2 linked regions of the Homo sapiens genome follow. The protein of the gene in region 1 interacts with the protein of each later gene in a pairwise test. Each region holds a gene or a part of one and is shown on either strand. Other genes may lie near its edges.

Region 1 (16,816 bases):
GTGCTAAGCCCCTCATCACCCGGGGCCGGCAGGGGCGGCCGGCTGCTCCGAGTGAGGGTCCCGCCAATCCCACGCCAACCCGGAACTCCAGCTGGCCCGCAAGCACCCTGCGCAGTCCCGGTTACCCCTCGCGCCTCTTCCTCTACACCTCCCTGCAAGCTGAGGGAGCTGGCTCTGGCCTTGGCCAGCCCAGAAAGGGGCTCCCATAGTGCAGCGGTGGGCTGAAGGGCTCCTCAAGTGCCGCCAAAGTGGCAGCCCAGGCAGAGGAGGCGCCGAGAGTGAGGGAGGGCTGTGAGGACTGCCAGCACGCTGTCACCTCTCAAGATCTCATTACCTTGTCCAGGCTGGTCTTGAATTCCTGAGCTCAAGTGATCCTCCTGTCTTGGCCTCCCAAAGTGTTAGGATTACAGGCATGAGCTGCTGTGCCTGGCCAAAAGTAACTTGATAATTTGCACACAGGTGCCACATAATCCTGGTGGTACAGGTTGTACTGTCCAATACACTAGCCACATTTTACTTAAAGTGATGTGAAATTTAAAGTTCAGTTCCTCAGTCATGCTAGACAATTTACAAGTGCCCAATGGCCACATGTGGCTAGTGGCTACTGTATTGGGCAATGTTTAGGTATCGAAAATTTTCACCATCACAGAAGGTTCTATTGCACAGCACTGGACAGACCCTGCTTCTAAACTATTCTACGCAATTTGCTAGGTGAACGATCTTTAATGCAAATCTAAACATGGTCTTCTTTTGCTCAAAAGCCTTCAATGATTTTCTCTTCCATCAGCAGCAATCAGTTAATAGAGTTTTTTTCTTTTAAAAATGGTTGTAATGGAAAGTTAAATCAATTTTGAATCAATTTTGTGTGTTAAGACCAGCATTAAAAACAAGTAGCAAAAGAGAGAAGGGAAAGTACTTATGGATCATTAGTACAGTTTTGTGAAATTTTTGTTTTGGTCATATCTATATTTCTTTGCCTCTATAACTAGATTTCCACCTCTTCATAACTTGATGTCTGTATGATATTCCACTGGGTTGCAATGAAAAAAATCTTTCTAGTTGTGTGTGGTGAGCAAAAAATTTGGGCTTATGGGATAAGAAGTCTGAGCTCCGTAATGAAGCATTATAAGGCCCTCTATGATCTGATCCCTTGCTAATTCATTTCTAAGTCTCACCACTGTCTTGCACTTAGGTTCCATTAATACAGAATTGCTGCTGGTTTCACCTGAGACACGAAGCTTTATTTTTCTTTTCTTTTTTCCATCTCTGTTGCGTTTCCTCATTCTGAACTGTTTCCTTGGACTGCCAGTTCTACCTTCTTTTTGCCTGGAGAACTTATCATCATCTAAGGCCAACTTAGGAAACACCTACAGCAGGAATCCTGCCTAAATGCTCCAGGGCGGGCTGGCTGTCCTTCTTTGACCTTTCAGAGCATCCCACACACATCCGTTTACGGGGTTATAATAACGTAATTATTTATTTAGGTGTTCATTTCCGGCACTATACTAAGTTCTTTCAGTGCAGGTACTATCTTATTCATCTTTGTATCTGAAGCGAGAAGCGCGGTACCTGTAACAAACTAGGCATTCATTCAATAAATATTTGTTGAAAGAATAAACGCAAGAAGGAAGGAAAAATCAATCAACAACTGTGCGGACAATGTCAGTGCAACGCAGACTCCGGCCATCAGAGGGCGCCGGGGCGGCTGGGCTGGTGCGCAGGCGCGCTGAGAGGGCTGGCGCCGCGGCGGTAGCGGTGGCGGTCGCGGCTGTGGCCGGGGGAAGTGAATGGTTTTACCCAGAGGGCCCTGCGCCGCCTTTCTCCGCTGGCAACGGCGCCGCTCCCCGCTCCTCCTCCCCAGCCATGGCGTTCACGTTCGCGGCCTTCTGCTACATGCTGGCGCTGCTGCTCACTGCCGCGCTCATCTTCTTCGCCATTTGGCACGTGAGTAGCTGGGGCTGGGGAAAGGAGGGCGAGGCGGCAACACAGCCTCTTTTCGCCCCGGGCCCGCGGTCCGGGCCGCCACGGCCGCCGGGGCTTTGCGCGTCGGGGATGCGGCCCGGCTGGCACGGGCCGCGCGGCGAGGGGTCTGGGGGCCGCGGGTACTGGAGGAGCCGGGGCGCGCAGTCGCCAGGTGGACGCGCCCGCGTTGCCTCGGCACAGGCCGCGCGCACCGCTACTCCTCCCCTACTGGATGGGGCGGCCGCGGTCCAGGCGGGCGCCCGCGGTTCCGCGCTGCGTTCGCACCGACCTCTGCCGGCCCGCGGCCCTGCATTCCCGGGGAGGATGTCGACAGCGCGGTGGGACGGCCGTAGTGTGAATGAAGTTTTCCGAATTTTTGTTAATACAGATTGACTTTCTTTTAGGGTTTCCACAGAACTGTGGCCAAAATGTAACCTACTTAGGGTGAATTTCCAACTCTACTTTTCAGCACTTGTTCGGTGCTCTTCAAATCAAATCACTTTTTTTCTCTTTTTCCAGATTGTTGTTTCCTGGTGAACTTTGATGCAAGTTCAATTGATTACTTTGTTGATTGCATGTGCGCGTTTCCCCCCCAAATCATACTTTGACCGCTGGAGTTTCAACAGGCAGCTTTCCAAGCCACCCTTATATTCAGGATTGCTTGATTTAGTAGAGGGAGTTTTCATTTGATTTTGAGATGCTCAGAAACCTTAAGCTTTTCTGGGGCAGTATTTATTTCTGTTACACACATCATCATCACTATTGCAGGGTGGAAGCACAGCCTTACTGGTCCCTCTAAGGAAAAAGTCGTAAGTTCCCTGTGACATAGTTCTACAGAGATAAGAATTTCTGTTGCTTTAGCACAAAATTAAAAGCCTTGAGAGCCTTCTGGAAATCATTCATTAAAAATTTATCTCATACTTGCTTCTCTTTTCCCCATATTCCAGTGCCTTCTGGAATGTTGCTTTTAATTTGAATGACCGCGTTCACTCTTACGTAGATTTTAAGTCAGGTTTCATCATGCCAGTAACAAGGATTTCTATGAAACATACGGAGGGGCAGAATGATTAAACAGCAGCAGCGTCTTGTGCAAAAAAGTCTCGAAAGTGGAAGCATATCACAAATCCATTCCTTTTTGCTAAGCAGTGTGATTATGTTTACAATTATTTTAGGACCTGACTGCTTATTGTAATCAGGAATACTTATGTAGGCTATTAACTGTGTCGGAAATAACTGCTACCTCAGAATGCTTGTCAGTAGGAGCAGTAATTTGAAGAGCATCTTCAGCCCTGCTTTGATGGAAGAACAATACCTAAGATAATTTGGGATACAGACTAGCTCAACCTTAGTAGGCCTCTGATGAAAATGTGTGGTTCCATGGCCGGGCGCGGTGGCTCACTCCTGTAATCCCAGCACTTTGGGAGGCCGAGGCGGGAGGATCACGAGGTCAGGAGTTCGAGACCAGCCTGGCCAACATGGTGAAACCCCGTCTCTACTAAAAATACAAAAAAATTAGCCGGGCATGGTGGTGGGCGCCTGTAATCCCAGCTACTCGGGAGGCTGAGGCGGAGGAGAATCACTTGAACCCAGGAGGCAGAGGTTGCAGTGAGCCGCGATGGCGCCACTGCACTCCATCCTGGGCGGAGACTCCGTCTCAAAAAAAAAACAAAAAAAAAGAAAGAAAGAAAGTGTGTGGTTCCATTCCATCTGTAGATGTAGCTTTAAGTCATTCTGCTTGATGGGTATTCCTTTTTTCTGGGATGATGGGGATTCTTAGAGTGGTGGGGTAGGCTTTTTCACATTTTTACGTTTTGAACCAGGTTGTGTTTGGCTTAAGGAAAACCTGAACCGCACTTTCAAAAAATGGGTAATTTCAGCTTAAACAAATGCGTGTCTGGGTGAAGTAAATAATTTTAAGTCGTGTTATACAATGAAAAAAAAATTATACCGCAGATTCGTGGAGAGCTTTTATGCTTAGGGATTTCTTCATTCAGAGAATTAGTATCCTTTTGGAAACAATTCTAAATAAATAGATAGTTTTAATTTTTCTATTACCCATATAACCTTATGTTTATCATCTTAGGTAGTATCTTAGTCCATTCCTTTATAGTGTTTATAGTGTTGCTATACAGGAATACGGGAGGCTGAGTAATTTACAAAGAAAAAAGAGGTTTATTTACCTCAGGATTCTGCTGACTATAAGACTGGGCATCTGGTGAAAGTCTCAGCCTGCTTCCACTCATGGTGGGGGAGTAGTGTGTGGAGATCCCATAGTGAGAGAAAGCAAAGGAAAAAGAGGGGGAGGTGCCAGGCGCTGTTTACAAGCCAGTTCTCTTGGGTCCTAATGGCAGGAGAACTCACTTATTCCCTCCAAGATGACACCAAACCATTCATGAGGGATCTGCTCCCATGACCCAAACACCTCCCGTTAGATCCCGCCTCCAACATTGGGGATCAGATTTCAACCTGAGATTTGGAGGAGTTAAACCAAACTCTAGCAGGTAGTTGAAGTATCTTTCAGAAGACTCATTTTACAATTTTTAAATTACATTCCAAAAATCTTATTTACATTAATCACTGTATTAGAGAATGTTTTTTATGCTGATGATTATATCTGTCAATTTAGTCCTAATTCATGTCATTGATGCTCTGTGGAGAATAGAGTCGGGAGCATAGATTGTTTGAAAAATTAAAAGCTTAAAAGTCATTCCTTAAAGATGTGTATTAAATTGGAAGGTATTCTGAATTGTGTACTTGGGCATCTTTAGGGATTTATCTGTTTTATTTTTGTTATACTTCTGTAGGAAATTTTGTGGGTGTCTTTGCTCAGCCACATAGCTGCAAAAAGATTTGAAAATCATTAAGAATATTCTCAGAAGAGGTTCGAAAACCCTAGCCTATAGCACTCAAAGAGAAACCCATTCAACAACATAGTTAAAAAATCCCTGTGACCAGGCACAGTGGCTCATTCCTGTAATCCCAGCACTTTGGGAGGCCAAGGCAGGTGGATCACCTGAGCTCAGGAGTTTGAGACCAGCCTGGGCAACATGGTAAAATCCCATCTCTACAAAAACTACAAAAATTAGCCAGGCATGGTGGCATGCACCTGTAGTCCCAGCTACTCCGGAGGCTGAGGCAGGAGAATCATTTGAGCCGAGGAGGTGGAGGTTGCAGTGAGCCGAGATTGTGCCACTGCACTCCAGCCTGGGTGACAGAGTAAGACCCTGTCTCAAGAAAAAAAAAAAAAAAACCCTTGAAGTCACCTGGAGAAAATGTCCAATTAAATGTCAGTTTTAAAGACAAGTTTTGTATTCTGTTAAGTTGGATCTTGTTATAGACAAGTACTTATGATTATCATCCTTGTCTTGAGCTTTATTACTAAAATGCATTGGGGTTATATACCACGGCTGACGTCAAGTAGCAGACTAATAACGTCCATAAGTAATCAGAAATTAGTATTTTCTAATTACACATGTATGTTTTTAACATTTGTGTTAGGTGTCATTAGCCAAGGGAAATCCCCCTGGTGAGTTCTGCATTTTTTTTTTTTAATCCCTAGTGCTATTTTTTTCACCCCCTCCTTCCAGTTAATATTTATTGAACACTTAACTATGTGCCAGGCACTATTTTATATTTTAGGCCCTGGGACATAATAGTAAATACAACAATCTTTGTTCTTTCAGAGATTACATTCTAATGTTTTATTATTTTCCTTCTATTGTTGTTTGGTTGGAGTTTTTATTAGGGCAGGTGGGTGAATTTTATGGAACTCTAGAAATTAAAAAAACCGTCTTTTTATGAATCTAAATTTTAACAGGGAAATAAACAGTCATGTTAAAAGATGGAAATATGTAACTTTACTGATTACTGATAATATTGAGCAACACTTTCACATATAAAGATACTATTCCTAACTCATTAAGGGAAGGGTAGCTTAGTTTGTGTGTCCCTGGGGTGAGTAGTGTTAGCAACTAAAATGGCTCCCCCATCAACTTGCTGCCTTTGTTTTCTTTCTTTGTCACCTGAAATGATGCCACAAAGTGGTGCAGAGTCCCTATTTTGACTCTTAATGTACATTCTAGTGACCCTTGAGGTTGAAGCCACATTCCTCCAGAGTGTGGACAAAAGCATCCTTACAAATGTATGTGTTTGGGCACCAATGGGAACACATTGAAGAGTTCGAATCCATCTCTAGTGTCCCACTGAGCACTGTGCCAAGGGAGGAGGAGCATGCACAGATAAATAAAAATGGTCCTTCTCCCTGAGAGTGTAGAGGGGCAGACAGACCTGTGTGTAAATACCACACTCCAGGGTGAGAAAAGCCATATCGATGGCATTATAGAGTCCCATGCTGTGTGGAGATGTGGGCAATTACTTCTGCCCAAAGGAGTTAGGAAAGCCTGCAGAAAGAAGTTGACCTAGGAAGGTTTGTTTTTTTTTTAGGATAAAGAGGAATTTGGATAAACAGTTGAAATTATTTTTCTACTCAGAAGATTATTTCGAGTAGAGATAAGTTGAAATAACTTGAGCAGAGGCATTGACGAAATTGAAAATTGAAGGTATTTATTACAGTAATACCAAATTTTAGTGATACTGAGATAAGAGTGTTTTCACTTTAAATCGCATTCTGGTTCTTTTTGTCATATATGAGTTTACTGTAAATTGGTATTTGGGATCTTGGTGTACTTTTGTTCTTGTTTTATTAACTTTAATAATTATTTGAAGATGGGGCAGGTTTGTTGCTGCTTTTAATTAAAGTGAGTGGTCCTAACTGTTTTAATTTTATTTTAGATTATAGCATTTGATGAGCTGAAGACTGATTACAAGAATCCTATAGACCAGTGTAATACCCTGAATCCCGTAAGTTATAATATAGGATTTATCTTTAGATTTTAAAAATATGTTTGTTTTTAACTTGAAGTAATTTGAAAATGGCCAGTATTCTGAGTAGCATAATATATTTGTACTTTTTGAAGTAGGCAGAATTTAAAAAATCTTCTTTTTCCTGTCGTGCTTGACTATTCTATTATTAATCTGCTGGTGATCTTGTCAGCTGTCATACTAACATTCTTCCAATCTGCTTTTTACATTGTCGGCCAAAGACAGTTGAAAAGGTCAAAAAGATTAAAAGAGTCAAAATTGCATTAAAGGTGTGTACTGCTTTTTAGTTAAATGTTTTAATGCTATATTCATTTCATGGGGAGGGTTAGGGCATTTGTATTTGTAACGTTTTGTTCAGTGTGCTCGTTCATATGCCTGTTGAGGTTTATGATTTCATGAAATTTCATATTTTATGCAAATATATGCTTGCTGGCCCAGTCAAGTAGGGAAAGCTGTTAAATGCGTATGCGTTTTTTTATGTTATAGCCATAGGCACTTCTATGTGAAATTATTTGGTGTAGTACTTGAAAGTTGGTTAACATAAAATGACTAATAGATGGTGAGATGATTCTCGGGTTGTGACTTATTGTGAGGTAGTATGTGAGTGAAATCTTTAGTATGGACTTATCTGCCATATCTAGTTTTATCTTTGGTTTGCATATTCTGGAATAAATGAGTCATTCTTTCAGCTGATGTTTATTCAGAGCCTGTTAGGTGGATAGCTCTGTTCTGGGGGCTCTGGGATCTCGCAGCAATGCCATTCTTTGGACTTAGGGTGCCATAATTTTGTAGATAACAATTTGTATACAAATGTCTATGTGGTTATTTCTAGTGTGTATCTACTTTCTGTTTCTAAAACAGGCCTGAATTACACTGAGTTCTGAGCCATCATGAATTTAGTGATAATGTAGCTCCATTGTGCTTAGGGTTTTTGAAAAAATATATATGTATGTATTTTTAAATTTTCTTTTGAGATGGGGGTGTCTCTATATTGCCCAGGCTCTTATCAAACTCCTGGGTCAAGTGATCGTCCTGCCTCAATCTCCTGGGTAGCTGGGATTACAGGCACACACCAGGGTACCCAGTTTGTTTTTTTGTATTTTTGCCTGCATTTAGGAAGATACTCTTTTAGCCTGTGTATTTGATTTTGCCTGACTGGTCAGTAATTGAAAGGTTGGTTGTTTATAAGAAAGCAGTGGGTATGTCTTCAAGAAATAAAATACAGTAATTCAGCTTTAAAAATTACTTAACGAAGGGGAGAGTTTGTGTAGATTTTAATTGTCTAGCATACTAGTGTACTAGCACTAGGTGCTAGAGGGATTTTATTTGGAAAAGCATCTAGAAAGTTAGTTTGGTACTTTATTATTGTTTCCCAGATAAATGTGGATGGTGGAAGAGATTTCTAGTTTGTCTTTAGAGAACTGTTACAGTAAGAGTTGATGTAGGTACAATTAAAAGTATTAACTTATTAGCTGTTTCTTTGCTCTTATGAAACAAGACATAAGAAGATGAATTTGCCTTCTCTTGGAAAGCATTAAGTGTTAATTTTAAAACATCTTAACCTAAGTAGTTGAAGTTGTTACCAGGAAATGAAGAAACTGAAATTTCCCCTTTTGATAGCTGTTTATTAATAGTATTCTGTGCTGTTTGTCTTTTCATTACTTCAATAACCAAATGATGATGAAGGTAAAAATATTTGAAATCAGATGAGGATTTTCCTGGGTGCTAGGCTCTGTGGTAAGCACTTTGCCTGAATTTTTAAATTTAATTCTCATGACAATCCTGAGGTAGGTAAATTGTTATCTCATGAATAGGAGAGTAAACTGAAGCTTTGCCAGGTTAAAGCACTTTGCCGAATGTTATACAGCTAAGATAGAGTCAGAACTTGAACTCAAGACAGCCTAATTTTTGAAGCTCAAGTTCTTGTATTTTCCTAATGTATTGTAAATTTAGGAGGGACAGGTTTCATTTTAACAGGTAATGTGCGATTCCTGGCTTTTCTTAACGGAAAGAAATTCTCACTGAGAAGAGACATGTGCTTGGGACATCCTAATGCTGCAGGAGGTTGAAGGACGTTTTTATAGCAGCACAGGTTGCCTTTTGGATAGGGTGCCAATAATTGGCTGAATAGCAGTGCATCTGACAGTTTTCCCTATTTAAATTTGTTTTGACAGTTCTGCCAAAGTATGGGGGAAGACAAATATCACTATTTTTTAAATTGTGAACTTTAACAAGAGAATATTATATTTTGCATGTTTAAATGTTATCATTTCAGCCATATTTGCTTGAGGTTTTTTTTCTGGATACTAGTTTCTGTTTGAACCTTGGTTCCTAAATTGAATAATTTTTGTGTCTCTTATGGGGAAATTTTGTCATTAAAGAATGCTCGGAGAGGGTTGGTTTTTAAGAGAGATGGGTAGTAAATGTTTCTGGACTCCTTTTGAGGAGAAGGGAGGGAATGGCATTGTTTCATATTAGAACTGGTAGAGTTGTAGATTATCTTTATTAACACTTTTATTAAAGTAATATTAAGAGCGGGAGGGGTTCATGCTTTCAAAATCATTCTTTCCATACTTCATTCTGTAAGTGTAGGATAAAACCTTGCATGAGGATTTGTTTGTTAGGTATCAGATGGCTTTTTAGGGCTGAAATAGGCTTATATTTTAAAGACAACGTCTGTAATTTAAACAAGTATTATAAAAGCAACTCTAGTGGAATTCTTAATAAAATGTATATTTTTCTTGGTTTGTTCTGGTTATAGTCCTTGAGTTTCAGAGTCCTATGGCCCTTTTCTTGTTTAGAGAACTTTGATCTTAAATAGATGCTGGCTTAAATGTTATTTAGAAGTTTAGGTACATATGCCGAGTTTATCCTTTGTTATTGTATTGCTTAAGTTTGTAGAAAATATTTGGTTAGTGGTGTAGATGAGTTGTTTACCTGGATTTTTTTTAAAAATAGTATTCATTAGAAAGTCCCCTCTACAGCTTTAAATTGGAAAGAGTAATTTGGGAGTATGAGAAAATGGGTCTGAGTATGTAGTGTGATTACAATATCTACAGCCATGGTTTCCCCTCAGGAGTGATCTGATGATGATAAGTATTCATATGATTTCCATTTGGTATGAAGTAAACATTTGAGAAACTGGCTTTGTAGCTGTGACTTACAGGAGATACTTCGGCTGAAACTTGCAATGAGAGGTTTTGGTATTTTTATTTAACAAAGTCCTCAGGCTGAAATCTTTAGGATGAGAAAGATAATTTAACATAAAGCATTAACTCCTGGTCATTTTATAAAAAGCATTTTGCTCGAATTAATTTTTCTTCACTTAATATTACCTAGTACCAAAAGGTTTATTTTGTTTTTGGGTTCTGAGCTTCTACTGGTCTTCTGTTGTGTCTGTAGCATTTTGTTGGCAAGCAGGGGTAAAGAAACGGAAAGGCCACCTAAGAATGAGAACTTGGGAACCTGGAAAATCTTAATTTCATGGTTAAGAACTCAGTCTTTTCCCTCCTACATTGCAGAAAGCGAATCTTTTACATTTGCGCATATTAGTGTTCTTCCCCTCACTGTGCTGAGATTATTGGCTGATTGGCTTTCCATTAAAAAATTACTTCTGTGGGAATGCAATGTGGTTTGCTAAATATTGTGTATGTAGCATTTCTGGTTTTTGTTAAAGGCTTAAAAACACTGATATGTAAAATTCCAAAGGGGAGTTTTGTTTCTGTGGAATTTTTAATATGTTGCATGTGATCAGATATCTCATTTTTGTACTTCTATCATTGTTGAATGGTGAAAAGAAAAAGTATTCTAGTTGACTAGCATATTGTTTAACAATCTGGGTGGTAACTTTATATAATTTGATCTGTTTCTCTAAGGATTTGAGCTTTGAATTTTAAGTCATGTATCTTACTATGTTAGTGCAAGCTATATGCTCTGGTCAGTTTGCCTGTAATCCTACTTTTGGTAAAAAGTTAAACATGGAAATAAAACTCAGTAGCATCTTTTATTTCTGAGTCTAAGAAAACAGTGATTTTTCATTATGGAAACTTGGTTGCCACCTGCTTTCCAGATTAGTAGTTGACTTAATGCTGAGGCATTTTGATAACTGGCTTGTGTTTTCCTTCCAGCTTGTACTCCCAGAGTACCTCATCCACGCTTTCTTCTGTGTCATGTTTCTTTGTGCAGCAGAGTGGCTTACACTGGGTCTCAATATGCCCCTCTTGGCATATCATATTTGGAGGTAATATTTAGATACACTTTTAATATTTTTTTAAATTAAAACTTAAATATACTGTGGTTGATATGGTTATCTTACATGCTAGTCACCTACATAAAAATGGAAGATCAGTTGGCATTTATTTTTTTAAAAATCAAGTGGGTGAACAAAAACTATTTCAATACCTCATATAGAGCTTACTTTATTTTTAAAGGAATTTTTTTAAAAAGTGAAGTATAACTTAGTGTTGTGCACAAGTCTGAAGTATATAGCTCAATGAATTTTTACATACGTATACACCTGTTAAACTACCACCCAGATCAAGATACACAACAGTTGTAGCCTCCAGAGCATTCACTTATGCCCCATCTTAAGTCAGTTACCCTCCACACCTCCCAAGACCACTGACCTCTATCAACTTAGATTAGCTTTGCTTGTCCTTGAACTTCAGGTAAGTCAAAATGTACAGTATGTGTCTAATTTCTTTCTGTGTTTATGACTAATTTTGGTTATTTGTAAAAGATAATATTTTATAACTTCCATAGTAATATCTGCCGTATATAGAGTTAGAAGTTTTTGTTTTAAATAGGCATGTCAAAACCTTATTGCCCTTGATTTTAGGAGACATATACTGAAGAAGTATTTAGAAGTAAAGTGTTATCAGGTCTACAATGGACTTTGAAATGATTCAGAAAAAAATGTACTTGGCCGGGCGCAGTGGCTCACGCCTGTAATCCCAGCACTTTGGGAGGCCGAAGTGGGTGGATCACAAGGTCAGGAGTTCAAGACCAGCCTGGCCAAGATGGTGAAACCCTGTCTCAACTAAAAATACAAAAATTAACCAGTAGTGGTGGCGGGCGCCTATAAACTCAGCTACTTGGGAAGCTGAGGCAGAGAATTGCTTCAGGCTGGGAGGCAGAGTTTGCAGTTAGCCAAGATCGTGTCACTGCACTCCAGCCTGGGCAACAGAGCAAGACTCTGTCTCAAAAAAAAAAAAATTTACTCAGGGCCAGGTACAGTGGCTCATGTCTGTAATCCCAGCACTTTGAGAGGCTGAGGCAGGTGGATCACTTGAGCCCAGGAGTTGGAGAACAGACTGGGCAACGTGGCAAAACCCCCCTCTACAAAAAAAATTAGCTAAGCATGGTGGCGTGTGCCTGTAGTCCCCGCTACTTGGGAGGCTGAGGCAGAAGGATTGCTTGAGCCCAGGAATCTGAGATTGTGGTGAGCCAAGATTGCACCACTATATTGCAGCCTGGGTTACAGGGTAAGACCCTGTCTCAAAACAACAACAACAAAAAAACAAAACAAAAAACCAAAAAAAACCAGTACTCAGAATGAGAAAGAGAAGGAGAAAGCAAATATAGTAAAAATGGACATTTGGAATATCTGGGTGAAAGGTTCTTGTATCTTTTCTGTAAGTCTAAAATTATGCCAAGATAAGTAAAAACAAAACACCTATTTTCTTTTTACAGTTCTTCCTATTTTTCATGGATTTCTGAAAAGGCAGAGACTAGAAGAAACTTGTTTAGCTATCTCATTCTGCTCATTTAGGGGCTCTACTTTTAAAATTAAGATGGTAAAAGGAAAGCATTTTACCCATAAGTAAAAGAATGCTTCCCTTTATGGACCACCTCTCGTAACAGATGTTTTAGAAGAAAGACCTGCTTTCTTATCTGAACATTTACTGCCCTTTCTGAATGCCTAATAGACTGTGTTTATTCCAGGTATATGAGTAGACCAGTGATGAGTGGCCCAGGACTCTATGACCCTACAACCATCATGAATGCAGATATTCTAGCATATTGTCAGAAGGAAGGATGGTGCAAATTAGCTTTTTATCTTCTAGCATTTTTTTACTACCTATATGGGTAAGTTGAAAAGGTAAAATGAAATATGCTTTCACTTTGCTGCTTTAAAAGTTTGCAGGCATTATGGTTTTCACACCTCAAAATCCATTTGAAGAATAACTTAGTGTCTTAAGTGTGCATGGTGCACACCAGCAAATTCGCACACATTCAGTGTGGCCCACACTGGTGCTTGTCAAGGCAGTAAACCAGCCTGCCATCAGAGGCAGAAGGTTTGGTCAGGGATGCTGCTTCATAAGTTTTCAGACACATTCAGTCAGTAAAGGATGGTCCTCATTCTCCATGGCAAAGTGATGTCATTGAAGGATAGGGATGTGTGAGTTTGCAGAAATTTCTGCTTGTCTTCAGGGTCTCTCCAGACATTATGTTTCATTTTTTCCTTATCATTCTTCATAAGTGGTGTGCTCTGCCCTTTATTTTCTGATTTGCTTGATTTGAGTGGTATGAATGAAAGAAGTAGTTCTACCTTACAGGGTGGTGCAGTTTCCGATTTTTGTTCTTTTTTTTTGAGTCGGAGTCTCTGTTGCCCAGGCTAGAGTGCAGTGGCGCGATCTCTGCTCACTGCAACCTCCGCCCCACCAAGTTCAAGCAATTCTCCTGCCTCAGCCTCCTGAGTAGCTGGGATTACAGGCGTGCACCACCACGCCCGGCTAATTTTTGTATTTTTAGTAGAGACAGAGTTTCACCATGTTGGCCAGGTTGGTCTTGAACTCCCGACCTCAGGTGATCCGCCCACCTTGGCCTCCCAAAGTACTGGGATTACAGGCGTGAGCCATCGCGCCCAGCCTGATTTTTTTCCTTTTATACTCTCATGGACTCATTGTTCCTCTAGGTCAGGGTGTCTCAGCTTCGGCACTGTTGACGCTTCTGGGCTGTGTGGGAATTTCTGTGGGAAGCTGTCCTGTATATCATGGGACGTTCAGCAGCATCCCTGGCCTTTACCCACTAGTTGCCATGAGCACCCTCCTGCCCCCTCATGACAACCAAAAATGTCTCTGGACATTGCCAGATGTCCTGAGGGGCAAAATTGCCCTGGGTGAGAACCACTGCTGTAGGTGTGTTGTAGGTGCAGTGAAATGACTGCTTATTAAAACTAGAAAAGGACACTGTTAAATGTAGAATTATATATTTCTTTAAGCTATGTGAATATACTTTTACACATCACTTATATAAAATACTTTCTCATTTTTTATTAATACATACTCAACTAGAGAGGACTTTCTCCTTGATTTTCAGAATATTTCCAAAAAAGCTGTAAGCTTTAAAAAACAGCATAAGCTTCCCTTCTCTTTTTCATTACTTGAAAACTTGCTAAGATAGGCTTATATTCATATTCATATTTCTCTTCATACATAAGTTTCCATCATAGAAAAGATGAATGGTTAGACTGAAATTTAGGAAAAAGGTATTTTTGGTATTTTTATGCCTTTAGAGGCTATTACTGTGAAAATGAGTATCCTTTAGTGCATATGCAGATATTACTCATCTATGAAACAAAGAAGTGCTCTGAAAAGTGAAATTCTATGTGTCACTTTAATTTCCTGTTAATTTTCATTTCATAAGTTTCCATAGCAAATGTCTGGAACGGGCTGGTGTATGATAGGCACTTCATACGTATTTGTTGAATGAAAGAAATGAAATGAATGATTGAATAAATGATAAAGTTGGAGATGTGCAGTTGTGGGAAAATGTTCAGCAGGATATGGTAGCACCAGGACATTTGTTGTGTTTTAAGGTTGTCTATCAAGCTTGTTCAACTCCTTTGTATTTCTGTTTAGAGTTATGTGCTTTTTGAATCATGCCCCTATGCCGTTCCCATAGCACTCTGTAGAATTGCCCTTGGCAGTTCTTAAACCTAAATCAAAAGGTCATTGCCTTTTATTTTGCTGTTTTCCCCCCTTTTCTTTTTTAACCACTTCCTAAAAGTTGCTATTGCTTAGATCCTTTCTGTAATGGGAAAGATCCTTGATTGATCATTCCTTTCTATACAATGGGGATACACATGGTACCTGCCTTCTAGGACTCCTTGAAGGATTAAGCAAGGTAATGTATATAAGAGACCTAACAGGGCCTGGCGTGAAGTGAGCCCTCCAGAGATACTCATTCTATTATTAGACACAACTCCAGAGTGTGTGATGTTTGGATGGCTTCTCTAAGCTCTGATCCGCCATTAAGCTTTCAGCTGTGCCGTTCTACTTGCTAAAATTGGAAGGGAATAGGGGACAACTACAGCATATGCACTGAGCCAAGTCATATGTTAGGCAAAAGTCCATAAATGCAAATTAAAATCACTGTGAACTTGTCATTAGTCTTGTCATTTTCTGTGATACTAGTTTGCTATATAAAGCATACTCTCTCATGCTCTGAGTTTTTTTTTAATAATTAGTAATGTTCAAATTAACATCTTTTTTCTTCTTTTCAGCATGATCTATGTTTTGGTGAGCTCTTAGAACAACACACAGAAGAATTGGTCCAGTTAAGTGCATGCAAAAAGCCACCAAATGAAGGGATTCTATCCAGCAAGATCCTGTCCAAGAGTAGCCTGTGGAATCTGATCAGTTACTTTAAAAAATGACTCCTTATTTTTTAAATGTTTCCACATTTTTGCTTGTGGAAAGACTGTTTTCATATGTTATACTCAGATAAAGATTTTAAATGGTATTACGTATAAATTAATATAAAATGATTACCTCTGGTGTTGACAGGTTTGAACTTGCACTTCTTAAGGAACAGCCATAATCCTCTGAATGATGCATTAATTACTGACTGTCCTAGTACATTGGAAGCTTTTGTTTATAGGAACTTGTAGGGCTCATTTTGGTTTCATTGAAACAGTATCTAATTATAAATTAGCTGTAGATATCAGGTGCTTCTGATGAAGTGAAAATGTATATCTGACTAGTGGGAAACTTCATGGGTTTCCTCATCTGTCATGTCGATGATTATATATGGATACATTTACAAAAATAAAAAGCGGGAATTTTCCCTTCGCTTGAATATTATCCCTGTATATTGCATGAATGAGAGATTTCCCATATTTCCATCAGAGTAATAAATATACTTGCTTTAATTCTTAAGCATAAGTAAACATGATATAAAAATATATGCTGAATTACTTGTGAAGAATGCATTTAAAGCTATTTTAAATGTGTTTTTATTTGTAAGACATTACTTATTAAGAAATTGGTTATTATGCTTACTGTTCTAATCTGGTGGTAAAGGTATTCTTAAGAATTTGCAGGTACTACAGATTTTCAAAACTGAATGAGAGAAAATTGTATAACCATCCTGCTGTTCCTTTAGTGCAATACAATAAAACTCTGAAATTAAGACTCACTTTCAGTGCATTGTTTGAGATTAAAAATAGTATTTCTTAAACTTGCTTAATCCATGATAAAGACATGTTGCTGTCATTTTTAAAAAGTGACGTACTACATTATGGGTTTTCTGAAAAATACCATGCCTAGATCTAAAAAGGAAAATTTTTAAATGCCGAGCACATTAACCTCTTTTGTCATTTGACAAGATTCATAAACGTGGATGGCATAGCATCATCATTTCTCTTACCAATTAAGAAAAATTATGGTGGCACTTAAAATATTTTACTTTGATTTTTCCTTTTTGGAACAGTCAGTTTTAAGGTAAAATGGCTTGTAAATTTGAGTTTTTGCTGCTGCTTGTAAGGCAGGTAAATTATGGCTTGCATGTTTTCATAAGCATAAATAAATCTTGTGCTTTATTTGGGATGAGGAAGTTAAGGCAGTTGAAAATAAAATAAGTGGTTTGGAAGTTTCTTGAGAAGAGGATCAAAAGAAAGAGAACCAATATATAGAAATTTCACATGATCAAGGAAGTTTATGGATGCGTTTGTGGAAATCTTACTCTATGA
Region 2 (7,861 bases), on another chromosome or scaffold:
TAAACACGGGTATGTCTTGCCACAGTGGCCATGCGTAATAAGGGATGGCTGTAACTTGGCACGGTGCTCTCAGGGACTGCCTGTAATCAGTACTGTACACATCCCTTCTTGAACCACAAGAGTCCTCCAGTGAGGGGCTCAGAAATCAGCCAGCCAGTCAACAGAGCACCTACTATGTGCCAGGGGTTATTTTAAGGGCTTGAGATGCAGCAATGGAGAAAACAGGCCACATTCCAGTGCCTATATCATTTACTTTCTAGAGAAGACAATAAACAGGTGAACGTAACAATGACAGTGATCTGTGCCCTAAAGAAACTAGCAGAGGGGCACCTGTAGTCCCAGCTACTCAGGAGGCTGAGGCAGGAGAATGGCTTGAAGCCAGGAGGCGGAGGTTGCAGTGAGCCGAGATCGTGCCACCGCACTCCAGCCTGGGCAACAGAGCGAGACTCTGTCTCAAAAAATAATTAAAAAAAAAACTAGCAGAGGGTATGACAGAGTGACAGGTAGAATGGCTACTCTAATCCAGTGGTTCTAAAAGGGTTACAGTTAACCTAAGGCAACATTTGAGCAGAGATGTGGGATTATGAAGCCAGCACTTAAAGAGACTAAGGGAAAAGGAAACCCAGCAAAGCCCCTGAGTGAGACTGCAGTTGGTGTACTCAAGCTGAAGTTAATGGCCCAGTTTCACTTGTGTGTGCAACAAGGCCGGTGGAGAGCAGGCAAGTAAGCTTGGGCCAAGGTGGGTTTTGCTGGCCTTGTCAATGAGTTTGGATTTCATTCTAAGTTCAGTGGGATGCCATTAGAGGGTTTTAAGCAAGTAGCAGCATAATTATTTATGTTGTAAAAAGATCTCCCAGACTGTTGTGAAGAGAATGAGTTTAAGGAGATGGCAGCATCATGGAGACATGCTGGAAGGCATTGTGATGGTCCCAGAATGGTGGCTGGTTAGAGATGGCACCGGAGCTGGAGAAACAGTCCCACATAGGACTTGCTGACAGATTGGATGTGGGAATTACAGAAAAAAAGGAGTCATTAACATCTTTCCTATTTTAGGCTTGAATAACTATAGGGAAAGTGATTTCCTATTACAGGGAACACTGGGAGGGACTGAAGGGCCATCAGGAATCTGTTTTAGCCACATTTCATATGAATGCCTATTAACCCTCCAAGCAGAGATGAAATATAAGCAGTTGACTGCCTCTAGAGCACAGCAGAGAAGCCAGGACTGAAGAGAGATTCATCAGATAAAGACGATACCATCCACCACAATACTGTCCCCCCACCGCCCACTAACTGTTCTTCATGACTACTCTACTGGATCCCAGCTCCTGAAGCATGAGAATCCACTGGCTGGGATGAGGACCTGAAAGATAACTACAAGAGGGACAGCCACCTACCACGTTCTACTTCCAGCCGCCGCTGCCTCTCCCGCTCCTGATCTGCCTGCACGGCCTTCATGTGCTGTAACACCTGCAAAGGAAAAGGAGGAAAGTAGTGCTCTTCATAGTCATGTTTGCTCAGGGAAGTCTCAAAAAACAGACTATTTTCAGGCTTCCAGATTATCATGGTAGCAATGTAGAACTAATAAGAGTTAGGCTGAATGTGGTGGCTCACGCCTGTAACCCCAACACTCTGGGAAGCCGAGATAGAAGGACTGCTTGAGCCCAGGAGTTCAAGACAAGCCTCGGCAACATAATGAGACCCTGTCTCTACAGAAAAATGTAAAAAATTGGCCAGGCACAGCGGCAGATGCCTGTAGTCTCAGCTACTTAGGAGGCCAAGGAGAGAGGATTACTTGAACCCAGAAGGTCAAGGCTGCAGTGAGCTGTGGTCACGCCATGGCACTCCAGTCTGGGTGAAGACTGAGACCCTATCTCAAAACAACAACCACCACCACCACCACCACCAAACTAATAGAGTTAATTGTATCTTTGTATCCTAAAATTACTGTGCCAACCTTAGTTGGAGAAGAGTGCTATGAGCCAAGGTCATTAAAACTGTCAGAAAAAAGTGAAACACAATGCCAACTCGAATCTGTAAAAAGTTCTGCCATTTACACTCACTGTCACATGCATGATTCCATATGACCCTCAGCAACAACTTGGGAACAGCATTTCCTCCAACACGCTTTCCTGACTGCCCCTCCTGTGGCTACCTTAAGTCCCCCTCCATCTACTCCTGTGGAATTCAACACAGGACATTGTAGCTACTTGCTACCTATCTGGCTTGGTCATAAGATGGCAGATTCCTTAATGGCAGGAACCGCTGTCTGGTCTGTAGGTATCACACAGGGGCGTGGCTAGCACAGAGTTTAGCTAATTGCAGGCATTCAATACATACATGAGGAATGGCTAATTCCCATTTCAAAAGGAAGAAAACCAAGACTCATAGGGTGATTTGTCCACTGCTAATGGCCAGAAAGCAGCACAGCTAAGACCTGAGCACAGTCCCCTGCATTCCTAGGGCAGAGCTTGTCGCACACACTTTCACCACATGCAGAGGAGAGCTCCGAGAGAAGCCTACACACAGCACACTTGTACTCGGCAATCTGAGCTCCCCAGATCCACATAAACTCGCTCATGGATGACCTCTAACCACACAATCACAAAGATTCTCGCTATGGTGGGTGGAGGAGGTAAAGACCTTTTCTGTTTGTATTTTTTTAAAGGTGGTATTCTTTGGCTGTAGGGGATAGAGTGTAAGCTTGGAGCCCAACGCAATCCTGACTACCCCTTATTGTATAACCTTGGCAAGTGACTTAACCTTTCTGAGCCGATTTTCTGATCGAGAAAACAGAGATAAGATATACTTCTATGGAGTGTTGTGAAGAATAAATAATATAACTTGTATTGGCTGCCTTGTATAATCTCTGGCATTATATGTGCTCAGTAAGTACTGCTGCTTATTTTCTTTACCATGTGAGTAAGAAAAAAGAAGAAAACCCAAACTATTAGCAAAAGGGTCTTGTTTTACTACTGCACTTAACAATTACATTTGAATATGCATGCGCACGAGACAGACATGTATATTCATATGTAATTCTTATTTCTAGAAAACTCCAGACACGCATACCTCCAGACAAGCACACACCCATCATAAGAAGTATTCAGGAGCAGACCAGCAAAAGGATCTCCTTTCAAAAGCCTGGTTTGGGCCAGGCGCGGTGGCTCACACCTGTAATCCCACACTTTGGGAGGCCAAGGTGGGCAGATCACTGGAGCTCAGGAGTTCAAGACCAGCCTGACCGATATGGTGAAACTCCCATCTCTACTAAAAAATACAAAAATTAGCTGGGTGTGGTGGTGTGCGCCTGTAATCCCAGCTACTCAGGAGGCTGAGGCAGGAGAATCTCTTGAACCCGGGAGGTGGAGGTTGCAGTGAGCTGAGATTGCGCCACTGCACTCCAGCCTGGACGATAGAGCGTGACTCTGTCTCAAAAAAAAAAAAAAAAAAAGAAAAAGGAAAGAAATCAGGTCTGGACCCAGAGTTAGGGCTCAGGGCACTCAGGCAGTAGAGAAGTTATGGGTCCCGTTGCCATGATTGCAGGGAGAGTGTGGAAAGTAAGAGTCCAGGGTGTTGGCTGAGGAAAAGGAGTGAGGGGAGTGGATCACCTGAGGTCAGGAGTTCAAGACAAGCCTGGCCAACATGGTGAAACCCCATCTCTACTAAAAATGCAAAAATTAGCCAGTCATGGTGGCATGCCCCTGTAATCCCAGCTACTTGGGAAGCTGAGGTGGGAGAACTGCTTGAACCCGGGAGGCGCAGGTTGCAGTGAACTGAGAGTGCGCCACTGCCCTCCAGCTTGGGTGACAGAGCAAGACCCCATGTCAAAAAAAAAAAAATTAATTATCTGAAAACACAGGCAATGCAGAAATGGGACAGATTGTCATAGTCTGGAGTCTGTGAGCTCCTGGAGGGTAAATTTTTGTCTAGCTACTCTAGTTCATAGCATACAGTAAGCACTTGATGAATACATTGAACAAATCATTTTTAAAAATTGCTTTAATATGTACCAAGCAGATTAAGACTAACCCATATACCCACCAGGGTTTAGGTCTTACCTGGTCAGAGCTAGTAAGACCTAAACTAATTCCTGCAGACAGACGACCTGATTCTGACTGGCCCAGGCCATTTCCCTACAAAGCCTAAAGGTGTGCTGCAGCTCTAGGACAGCTGTGCTAGGGACCATGGCTTTAGTTACCACATCCACTATGCTGCCTGGAGCTTTGTCTGAAAGACATATGCAAATACAAAAGGCCTTTGTACTCAATCAAAATTATTTTTGTATGTCAAAAACTGGAATATCATCAATTTCCTATGGTTCCACATATTACCTACTGAATGAATGGATGGATGGATGAATGAAAGGTGTGTATATGCTGAGGGTTTCTTGTGTCAGAGAAATGAAAGTAATGCCGACTCCTCAGGGCTCTGAGGATTGTGAGATGGTGCATGGAAAGCATCCAGGACAAGGAAAGAGTAATCAATGGTAGCTACTGTCAGCTTGCAGAACAGACATCACTCCTACAGCACCTAGTTTTCAAAAGAGGATTTCACTGATCACTTATACTGTTCTCATCTAAGGGAAAACTCTTGTCTTAGCTACTTGGTTAACTTTGTGCTTGATTTGTTGTAATAAGAGATGATACAGATGACAAGATTATATAAGAAGCCCTGAGCTAATGATAAGAAGTATCTTACTCTCTTACTCTCTACTTGAGACAGCAGAGACTCATCATTCACCCATGAATTCTAGTATTTAAAGTTAAGTCTTTTTTGTTCAACATGCACCTTAAACATAGCCAAGTTAGTCATCTGGTGCTCAGCTGAAGCAGCAGCAATCTGTTCCAAAGCTGGAGGGAAAAAGTGACTATAGTTGGAGTTATTAAGAGATAGGTGTAATGCTGTTCTTAATAGGTAGGGTACGGCACCTTCCAGGCTACTGACCACAGACAATAGTTGTCTTGCATGCTGCTTTCAGTTCCTCACTCCTATGTCAGATGACTCAACTGTAATCAAATACCAGGTCTGCCCAGGACGTGCCTGCTTACAGCTGTAACACCTTTATCATCGCTTTTATTATCAACATTCCTACGACTGTGCCTCAGAAAGGCCACAGCCCCTAACCCCCGGTACTATTAAAACAACTGTCCACACAGTGTCATGTTGCATCACGCAAGGTCCCGGCTCCTTAAGAGAGGAAGTACTGCAGTAGAGAAGGCAGTCTTGTTCTGCGACTTGCGAACTAAGTGCAGGCCAGGCATGGTGGCTCACGCCTATAATCCCAGCACTTTGGAAGGCCAAGGTGGGCGAATCATTTGAGGTCGGGAGTTGGAGACCAGCCTGGCCAACGTGGCGAAACACCATCTCCACTAAAAAATACAAAAATTAGCTGAGCATGGTAGCAGGCGTCTGTAATCTCAGCTACTCGGGAGGCTGAGGCAGGAGAATCGCTTGAACCTGGGAGGCGGAGGTTGGAGTGGGCCGAGATTGTGCCACTTGCACTCCAACCTGGGCAACAGAGCAACTCTGTCTCAAAACAAATAAAAAACAAAAAGATAAAGTAAATGCAGAAACAAAGGTCTCTGTTTGACAGGCTCATAGTGGACATATTTCACTCGGACCTGAATGCTTAACTCCACACAAAGCTCCAGGTGCCCTAGGAGGGAAAAACAGGAGGAGGAGAAATCCCAGGGAGTGTATAAGGAGCCACTGGGAGGGAGCTTGGTGCTTACCTTGTTTGCACACTGCTTACACTGCTTCTCATCCAAGCAGTCACCTGCCACCTTGGCCAGGACAGGATCCAGGGGGTTATCCTTCAGGTCCAACCACTTCAGGTTCTAAAGAGATGGGCGATGGGCAAAGAGGCTCATTAAGCCCGAGTTCACATACATAGTCCCTCAGGGTGAAACAAAATGAGCAGGAAGAATGCCCCTCTGTGTTCCACATATAGGGAGCGCCATCTGAGGCAGGACCAACAAGGGGGTATTTCTGTCAGCCTTTCTCAGGGCCGTGCTCCAGAGTCCCTGAGTTCTCTGCCACCCTGGCCATGAAACACTGGTTCATGAATTGTTACCTTGAGCTGAGCAAAGCTGACAGGCAAGGTGACCAGCTTGTTGTTGAGGAGATCCAGGTGCTGGAGGTTGACCAGACGGCCAAAGTCTGCTGGCAGCTGCTGCAGCTTGTTCTTACTCAGGTCTAGCTTCACCAGGTGTGTGAGGCCACAGAAATCCGACTAGGATCCAAAGAGAGAACCTAAGCTAGGCTTGTCCAACACACGAGCCACGACAGCTTTAAATGTGGCCCAATACAAATTTGTAACCTTTCTTAAAACATTACGAGATTTTTTTTCCTTTTTCAGCTCATCAGTGTATTTCATGTGTAGCCCAAGACAACTCTTCTTCTTCCAATGTGGCCCAGGGAAGCCACAAGATTGGAAACTCCTCATCTAAGCCTTGGGCTCACACACTTCGGTGTAACAGTCTGGAAGCCCTCAAGTCAGAGGTACCCCATGTAAAAATCCTGGCTCTACTGTTAGCAGCCGTTCTTCCTCAAATGAAAATGCAGAGAACACCTACCACACCTGGTGATAATTACCAAGATATGTATGGAAAAGGGCTTAGCACAAAGTAGGCACAAAACACTATTCCTTCACCCTCAGTTCTTGCTCCAGCCTACCCTCCACACTGCTCCTGGAGAGGTGTGGTTACCCATTCTGTCCTTCCACAGCACCCTATGCTCACCATTCATAGGATCTGTCAAAACAGCGTGCTCGTTCATTTTCTTAAAAAGATCAGGCACTCCTGGAGTACTCAGTCTGATTCTTGTTATTTGCAGCACCTAGCACAGTACTTAACACAGGTGCTCAACAGACATTCTGTGAATAACTAACTGAACGGGCTGGGGTCCATCCTACCCAAGTCCTGGCTCTTTCTCAACACAGGTCAAAACATCCCCCTGACATTAAACCTTTGCTAAGCACCCATCTGAAAGCGATGGTACAACCTCAGCTAATGAGGCACTATTCATGCTCTCTAGGGACTTGGAAATGCCAGTGGATCTGAAATGCAGAGTGAAATGGAAGTTGTCAGTACAGACAACAGAACAAGCTCAGATCGAAAAGTGCACTTGGCTGAATGACCATCTGGCAAAGTGTACAGAAGGAGTGCGGCTGCAAGGAATTGCTAACCTGCTTTTATTTTTAATTTTTTAGAGGCGGGATCTTGCTATGTTGTCCAGGCTGCTCTCAAACTCCTGGGCTAAGTGATTCTCCCACCTCAGCCTCCTGAGTTACTGGGATTATAGGCATGAACCACAGCTCCCAACATATTCTTCTTTTATTCAACACAAAATACTTTCTGGAAGAAGTGAGATCTCGATGCTTTTTGAATGTTAGAAACAGTTTTTGATGAGCTGTGACAAGGTACTGTGGACGATGAGCAAGGCCTAGGAGAATACTGAGAGGTGAGTGGACTAATAATCCAATGAGGACATTGCCAACTTCTGAATTCGACCTCTGAGCCACAGCCAGGGCCAAATAGGAAGTCACCCTGGAGTACAGCAAGGAGTGGCACGGCTAGAGTGATGGGTGGAAGTGGCAATAGCACACTTAGGCCTGACGGTGCAGGAGCACTACTATGTCAGAGAGGCTGAGGGGCTGAATGAATCCACTGTCTACACAGGTGGAGTGGAAGGAAAACTAGCAGACGTTGTGCAAGAAAAATAAAAAGGATTTGATCATGGATTGAATGTGCTGACCACATTGAGCAAATCTCAACTAATTCAAGTCCTTTGGGAGAATAATGATAAGGTAGCCCATAAAATCACCTTCTTTCTTGCTCCCCATCAAAAGATGCACAAG

The links.
Region 2: the proteins of CNIH1 (region 1) and LRRC59 interact in binary tests that used the Homo sapiens proteins (3 or more experiments, as listed by UniProt).

What each region holds. Positions count from the first base shown.
Region 1 is NC_000014.9:54,426,375-54,443,190, reverse strand, and holds the start of CNIH1 (protein cornichon homolog 1), read left to right. Parts: upstream 1-1,816; 5' UTR 1,817-1,863; coding exon 1,864-1,944; intron 1,945-6,753; coding exon 6,754-6,822; intron 6,823-10,970; coding exon 10,971-11,083; intron 11,084-12,786; coding exon 12,787-12,930; intron 12,931-15,349; coding exon 15,350-15,377; 3' UTR 15,378-16,816. UniProt on the Homo sapiens protein: Involved in the selective transport and maturation of TGF-alpha family proteins.
Region 2 is NC_000017.11:50,386,663-50,394,523, forward strand, and holds part of LRRC59 (leucine-rich repeat-containing protein 59), read right to left. Parts: intron 6,236-7,861; coding exon 6,077-6,235; intron 5,841-6,076; coding exon 5,736-5,840; intron 1,471-5,735; coding exon 1,398-1,470; intron 1-1,397.